Linked DNA regions of Homo sapiens. The protein of the gene in region 2 purifies or fractionates together with the protein of the main gene of each other region. This does not show direct contact. Each region holds a gene or a part of one and is shown on either strand. Other genes may lie near its edges.

Region 1 (3,787 bases), on a different chromosome or scaffold from region 2:
TGTTACCAGTAGCTGCAGGTCTCGGATCTGCTCATAGTCGAAAGATTGCAGCGCATACAGGACACCGGTGTCAGAGTTGATGGAGATATACGAGGACAGGGGCGCCCCCTGCAGCGTGTCCTCGGTCACAGAGTAAGTGACCTGGGCATTCTCCTGGCTGTCGGGGTCGTGTGCAGTCAAGGAAAAGATGGAGGCTCCTCTCAGGTTGTTCTCTAGGATATACGCTGAGTAGGAGGCATGAGGGAAAGTAGGAGGGTTGTCGTTAATGTCTGCCACGTGCAGAGCGATTTGAGTTTCAGTGGACAGAGGTGGTGTTCCTAGATCTGAGGCCATCACTGTGATATTGTAGATAGAGACATTTTCTCGGTCCAAATATTTCCTTGTCACTAATCTATAATAATTACCTATTGACTTTTCTAATTTAAAAGGTAAATTATCACGTGTGTAACAGACAACTTGACCATTCTTTCCAGAGTCTTGGTCATGCACACTCAAGAAGGCAATTACTGTCCCGGGAAGAGAATTTTCTAACACTGGGCTAAACAAAGACGTAATGATCACTTCTGGTCTATTGTCATTTACATCTTCCACCGAAATGAGCAATTTGGTCCTCCCCAGAAGTGCCCCCACATCTTCGGCTTGTATTTCCATTTCATAAAATGAACATTCTTCATAATCTAGACTTTTTGCTATTGATATTTCCCCAGTATTTTCATTAAGCTGGAATAACGGAGTTTGTTTTTCATTAATTTTCCGGAATTTGTATGCCACTTTTCCGTTGATTCCCTCATCCGGGTCGCTGGCTGTTACAGTAAGCAGCCGCGTGCCTGGGGGCATGTTCTCAAGGACTTTCACTCGGTAAATCGGGTGAGGAAAAACCGGGGCATTGTCATTTGTATCCAACACTGTCACGTGGATGCGCACTGTGCTAGAGCGAGGCGGCTTGCCGCCATCCGAGGCCGTGAGGACCAGGTGGTGAGCAGCCTCTTCCTCCCTGTCCAGGGCGCGCTCCAGCACCAGCTCTGGGTTTATGGCTCCATTGTCTCCAGTCTGCACGTCCAGGGAGAAGTGGTGATTGGGGCTGAGCTGGTAGCTCTGGAGGGAGTTCACGCCCACATCCGGGTCAACAGCTTCTGGGAGTGGATAACGTGCTCCAGGAACCGCGATTTCGTTAATTTTTACTTCTAGATCTTCGACCTGGAATTTTGGGTTATTATCGTTAATATCAATTATTTCTATTTCTACCCCAAAGAGTTTTCCTTTATCCTCAACCAGGGTGTTAATATTTATCAGACACCGCGGGCTCTGAGCGCAGAGCTCCTCCCGATCTATCCTGCCCGCGGTGATCAAGCTGCCGCTGCGCGGGTTCAGAGCAAAGAGCTGCGTCCTACCTCTGGAGACGATACGGACTCCGTGCTTCGCCAGCTTCCGGGGGTCCAGCCCCAGGTCCTTGGAGATATTACCCACGAAGGAGCCTTTGTCCGTCTCTTCTGGCACAGAGTAGCGAATCTGTCCCCTCCCGATTTCCCACAGCGTTCCCAGCAGCGCGCACAGCAGGATCAGCTCGCCGCGTCTGGGGCGACTCTGTGGAGCGGCCATTGTTGTTTTGCTGCAGAATCCTCTCAGAATCTTCACTGTGCATAAATGGGTCTTATTTAGTTTCTTGCCGCAGCTATGGAGATGACAATCCTCCGGAAACCTGGAGTGCCTCCAAACAGGGGTCGGGTTTCGCTGCAGTCCAGCAGTTAGTTTGTGGCATCTGCGGGTCTTCGTGAGGTGTGAGATCTGAGTGTTTTCGGTTGCATTTGTCTTCCAGTAGGTGAACAGCGGCGCTTACAGTCCTAAATAGTTACTGCACTGAGATACAGATTACTTCTAAATGTAATACTCTACTAGATTACTGAGAAAAAAAAATCATTTGCTTATTACTTTGTTTTGAATTTATTTGATTTATCCGTAAACCCATATTTTAAAAGAAACAGCCAAAGAATGTGAGATGAAGGTTTTATTTAGTGTTATTAAATGATCAGATTAGATCAGAATGATCAGATTGTAGCATCGGATTAAATTACTCACATTTCTGCAATACATTTGGTCTTAAAAAAAACATGATACTTTCATTTCCCATTGTGCTCTAAGCTTTATTGTAAATGTCTCCAATATATACTAACAAATAACTAAGAACTTCAGTTGTCACCAGAAATGAATTTATCTTGAGACTAAAATAGACCTACTGGAGATGACTGACTCAGAAATTGTTTTATTTGGTTTAAACTACTTAATCATTTTACAAGCTTTCTATAGAGTTGTTGCTTTTAAATTATTCTTCTAAATGCCACTTGAATTACATGTCGATAATATTTTCAAATAAAAATTGTGGAATTTCAATAGGATAAATGCTTTTACCATTGCAGTTTTATGAGATATTACATTGTTTTGCTATTTTATTTACATTGTTTATATTTTTCTATTTGAATACTTGAAAGGTACAGATGAATATATGATAAAAAGCAAAGCTCCATCCCATCCCTTTCACCAAAGAGATGATTAAATTTAAAGCAGACTTGACTTTTACATATATTCTAAAATTAACTTTACCTACATTAACACTTTGATCTAAAAAACTGCAAAAAGTAATGACTATATAATACTTACTAAGAAGCCAAAGGATAAGTATGACTACAAAAAAGTCTGTTTCCCTTCAAGACCAGCCTGGGCAACGTAGCAGATGAACTTATTTCACCCTTCCTTTGAAGACTGGTATGATAGTTTTTTCACTGACTAAAACTTTCTTAAAACCACTCATGAAATCTGAAAACTTTATATTTTCCTGTGAATATATTTTCTTATGCATATGGAAAACTGGGTAGACAATGGAAACCATACCAGTTAAATTAGTGAAAGAAAATATTTTCTCTACTGAAAACAGAAAAATTAGCCAGGTCTGGTGGCATGAGCCTGAGTTCCAGCTAGTCAGGAGGCTGATGCAGAAGGAATGCTTGAGCCCAGGAGTTTGAGGCTGGAGGGAGCTATCATTGTGCCACTGCACTACAGCCTGAGTAACAGACAGAGACTCTGTCTCAAAAAAAAAAAAAGAAAAAAAAAAGAATCGAAAGACGTTTCCTTCTTTCAGCAATTTGTAAAGTGGCCATTAACTGAAGCAGTTGCTTAGATATACCTAGCAAAAGGCTCATATAATGTTCCTTGGTATTTTGTATATATTTTGTATGCACACCAGATTGGCAGTTTTCAAGACTATATTTCTTTCCTAGAGGTAGGAGAATGATTAGAAGACCTCTAGCTATATTAGTTTAGGGCTGCAGATAAGGCAGTTACACATTATATATTAGGGCTGTGTGTGAGAGGGACAACAGACACAAAACATTGTCTTTTCTTTGATGAAGGATATAGAATGAGCTTGAATACAGATTAATCCTGAAACTCCTATGTTACAAGTAAGGAGAATCTGCTTTTGATCTTCTAATGAGCATAGTAGACCTTTTTCTAAGTAAAAGGATCTCTCTCACACACACACACACACACACGCACACACAGCGTACACTGCATATAATCACAAGGGGTCCATGGACATAAAAATCCAGTTGACTCCTTATTCTAAGAGCTTTTGAAACAAAAGGGAAGTTAACACAGGAAACAAAACAGTGGACTACTATGGAGACCATACCAGTTAAATTAGTTAAGAAAAGTGTTGAATTTTAGCTTAAATTCTTTGGCTTTATTATTTTTATATTTATGGTATATCCAAGCTGAAAAAAGTATTCATCAT
Region 2 (3,787 bases):
GTGTGGTGGCGCATGCCTGTAATCCCAGCTACTCAGGAAGCTGAGGCAGGAAAATCACTTGAACCTGAGAGGCGGAGATTGTAGTGAGCTAAGATTGTGCCGTTGCACTCCAGCCTGGGCAACAGAGCGAGACTCTATCAAATAAATACATCATACACACATACATACATACATTTTTCTGTAGACATGGAGTTTCACTATATTGCCCAGGTTGGTCTCAAACTCCCAGGCTTAAATGATCCTCCTGCACTGGCCTCCCAAAGTGCTGGGATTACAGACATGAGCCACTGTGCCCGCCCTCCTTCTACTTTCAAACATAAGGGAGGCTGAGTGAGCAAGCCCTGGGCCCCCCATTCCACTTTGCCCAAAGGGATTTAACTTCTAGCTATTTATATATCAAGAGCCTGAATGAGCTTTCATTTTCAGAAAGGGTTCCATCATTAAAGAAAAAAAGGTCTGAAAACAATCAGGCTAAACCCATCTCCATTACTCTCAAGACACGAGCTGCAGAACAGTACGCCCATTGCCTGGCTGTACCAGAGACTCTGAGTCAACTGGGTTTGGTTGGGGTCTGAGCATATTTTAGAAGCTTCCTAGCTGATTCCAAAGCACGATCAAGAGTTAAGAACCAGGCCAGGCACGGTGGCTCACGCCTGTAATCCCAGTACTTTGGGAGGCCAAGGCGGGTGGATCACCTGAGGTCAGGAGTTCGAGAACAGCCTGGACAACATGGTGAAACCCCATCTCTACTAAAAATACAAAAATTAGCCAAGCGTGGTGGCGGGTGCCTGTAATCCCAGGTACTCGGGAGGCTGAGGCAGGACAATCGCTTGAACCCAGGAGACGGAGGTTGCGGTGAGCCGAGATCGCGCCATTGCACTCCAGAATGGGGGACAAGAAGTTCTGTCTCAAAAAAAAAAAAAAAAAGTTAAGAACCGTAGTGCTGGGAGCTGCTTCTTGTGAGCAGCAGCTCAGTCCCATACGGTCAGCAGGCATCGTGATCAGGCATAGGCCTAAAGCGCTATATCCCTCACTAGGTGTGTGACTTTGGCAAGTTACTCAGCTTCTCTGAGCTTCACAATCCTCTTACAAACAGTGGAGATATGTATCTACCCCTTAATAGTATGTTGTGTTAAATGAAATGAGACCAGCAGGCAGGCTATTCTGGACACATTTTCAGAAATCCTTCAGGTCATCCTATTTGATGCTTGCTTCTTCAAGGTTTGGGTCTAAGTCTTGGACCATGGGTAAGTGCTCAGCTTGAAATAAACTAGATTCATCTGGCAGTAAAATGAAGAAGGAAAAAAAGAAACTAAATCCATATTAATTCTAGTCATACTGTTAGCATACATGCTTGTAATAATTGTCACAATCATAGGGTCTGTCATTTTTTGTGCTTACAGTGTGACAGGTGCTGGGCTGGGTACCTTACACTCCTGAGCTCAGTGAATCCTAACCCAATGAGGTAGACACTTATCCCCATTTTCCAGATATGCAACTGAGGCTCAGAGACTATAAGTCCCTTGAGGGCAGGGATCATGTCTATCTCACCCACTACTGTAGCCCCAGCACTTAATGTGGTGTCTGGCAAAATAAACATTTATTGAATAAAAGAATAAACTTGTCCAAGGTCACCTGGCTGGTAGGTGGCAAAGCTGGGACCAAAGAGCAGGACTGTCTGAGCCAAAGCCCTGCTCCTCCTGGCCATGCTCTCTGCTGCCAGGACTATTCAGGTGGGCACGTACCTGCAAAACCTGAGCCACAGTTGGTGATGATGTCCAACAAGGAATCGGGCAGGAAGCCATCAGCAGCAAAGTGCTCCAGGAAAACGTCCCCTTGCCTCTTGGAGAGCTTGCTGCCATCCCTGTTGAGGAGCAGGGGCAGGTGGGCGAAGTGGGGTGGCTGCCAGCCCAGGGCCTGGTAGAGGAGCAGGTGCTTGGCAGTGGAGACGAGCCACTCAGAGCCTCGCAGCACGTGGCTGATGCCCATGTGGTGGTCGTCCACCACGCAGGCCAGGTGGTATGTGGGGAAGCCGTCGCTCTTCATGATGACTGGGTCTCCCTCCACGCTGGCCACTTCATGCCTATTCCAGCCATAGACCAGGTCCTGGAAGGCTGGCACCACCTGCTCCAGGCGGAAGCGGATCGCAGGCTTGGGGTCCTTGGCCAGCTTCTGGGCCACCTGCTCCTGGCTCATGTTCCTGCACCGATTGTCATACCTGATGGGGAGCAGAGCAGCATGAGTACTGTTGATGGAAAGGTTGATGGACAGGAGTCCTACCTCTGTCATAGCTGTGTGACCTTAAGCAAGTCAGTTACTGCTGCAAGCTGCTTCCTCAGTCTATAACAGGGATGATGGTACAGTTGTGTGGAAAACTGAGATAACATGGTGTAGCAGACACTAATGTCTGCCTATCTACCAGCCATTCCACGCTTCTTCCTTGCTAACAAGAAAATAGCAAAATGCTTAGTCCGAGGGGTTGAATCCTGATTGGTATAGCCAATCTTGCAATCCTATTGCTCCATGCCAGTGACCAGTCCAGGCAGGAATGTAACCCCATCCTAGTCACTGGGATGCAAAGAAAAGCATGCCTGGGGAGTAAGAAAGGTTTAAGGTTCCGGGAAAGGTTTTTCTCTCCAAAGGACAAGAAGAGAAAGCCACAGGAGGAAAATCCCTTCTTAAAATTTCCCACTGCCCCACTTCTGTCCTCTTTGGATGTTGTCCTGTAAGGGGAGCATGCTTGGACCTGCGGCAGCTACTTGCAACTGCAGGAGGGAAGGCAATGAAGTCAGAGAGAAGCCAAAATAGAGCCCTGGTGTCTCTACACTGCTAGTCTCATCCTGGAGTCACCCACCTCCAGCCTTGTGCAGAATCAAAAGACAAATGTCTATGATTGATGCCCTGGCTACTGAAAGTGTGGTCTGTGGGCCCCTAGCATCAGCCTCTTGGGAGTCTGCCAGAAATGCAGACTCTTAGGCTCCACCCCAGACCTACTGAGTCAGAATCTGAACATTAACTAGGTCCCCAGGTGATCCATCTGTGAGTTAAAGTATCGTTTGTCCCTTCTAACAGGGTATTCCACTAACTGCACCCAAAAGCGTTCTGAGACACAGATGGAATGCTTGTAAGGTTAGTCTTTGCCACAGCTAAGTGTTCAATCAATCAATAAATGGTGCACAGGGCTGGACACAGTTGCTCACGTCTGTAATCCCAGTGTTTTGGGAGGTCAAGGTAGAAGGACAGCCTGACCTCAAGGGTTCAAGACCAGCGTGGGTAACATAGCAAAATCCTGTCTCTTATTTAAAAATTTAAAATACCAGCCTGGGCAACATAGTGAGACTCTGTCTCTACAAAACAAAACAAAACAAAATCAGCCAGGTGTGGTGGTGCATTCCTGTAGTCCCAGCTCTGTGGGAGGCCAAGGTGGAAGAATCACTGGAGCCCAGGAGGTTGAGGCTGCAGTAAACTATGATGGCACCACTGCACTCTAGCCTGGGTGACACAGCGAGACCCTGTCTCAAAAAAAAAACTTTTTTTTTCTTTTTTTTTTTTTTTTTTGAGATAGAGTCTCGCTGTGTCACCCAGGCTGGAGTGCAGTGTCGTGACCTTGACTCACTGCAACCTCCACCTCCAGGGTTCAAGCAATTCTCCTGCCTCAGCCTCCTGAGTAGCTAGGATTACAGGTGCCTGCCACCACAACCGGCTAATTTTTATATTTTTAGTAGAAATGGGGTTTCACCACGTTGGTCAGGCTGGTCTCGAACTCCTGATCTCGTGATCTACCCGC

What was found. The genes of interacting proteins can lie anywhere in the genome.
Region 1: the proteins of EARS2 (region 2) and PCDHGB4 purify together in Homo sapiens (co-immunoprecipitation; one large-scale study listed by IntAct). This does not show direct contact.

Annotation. Positions count from the first base shown.
Region 1 is NC_000005.10:141,390,626-141,394,412, reverse strand, and holds part of PCDHGB4 (protocadherin gamma-B4 isoform 1 precursor), read right to left. Parts: intron 1,781-3,787; exon of another isoform or gene 1,600-1,780; coding exon of another isoform or gene 1-1,599. Other genes in the region: PCDHGA8 (protocadherin gamma-A8 isoform 1 precursor), read right to left, coding at 1-1,599. UniProt on the Homo sapiens protein: Potential calcium-dependent cell-adhesion protein. May be involved in the establishment and maintenance of specific neuronal connections in the brain.
Region 2 is NC_000016.10:23,533,143-23,536,929, forward strand, and holds part of EARS2 (nondiscriminating glutamyl-tRNA synthetase EARS2, mitochondrial), read right to left. Parts: intron 2,219-3,787; coding exon 1,746-2,218; intron 1-1,745. UniProt on the Homo sapiens protein: Non-discriminating glutamyl-tRNA synthetase that catalyzes aminoacylation of both mitochondrial tRNA(Glu) and tRNA(Gln) and participates in RNA aminoacylation for mitochondrial protein translation.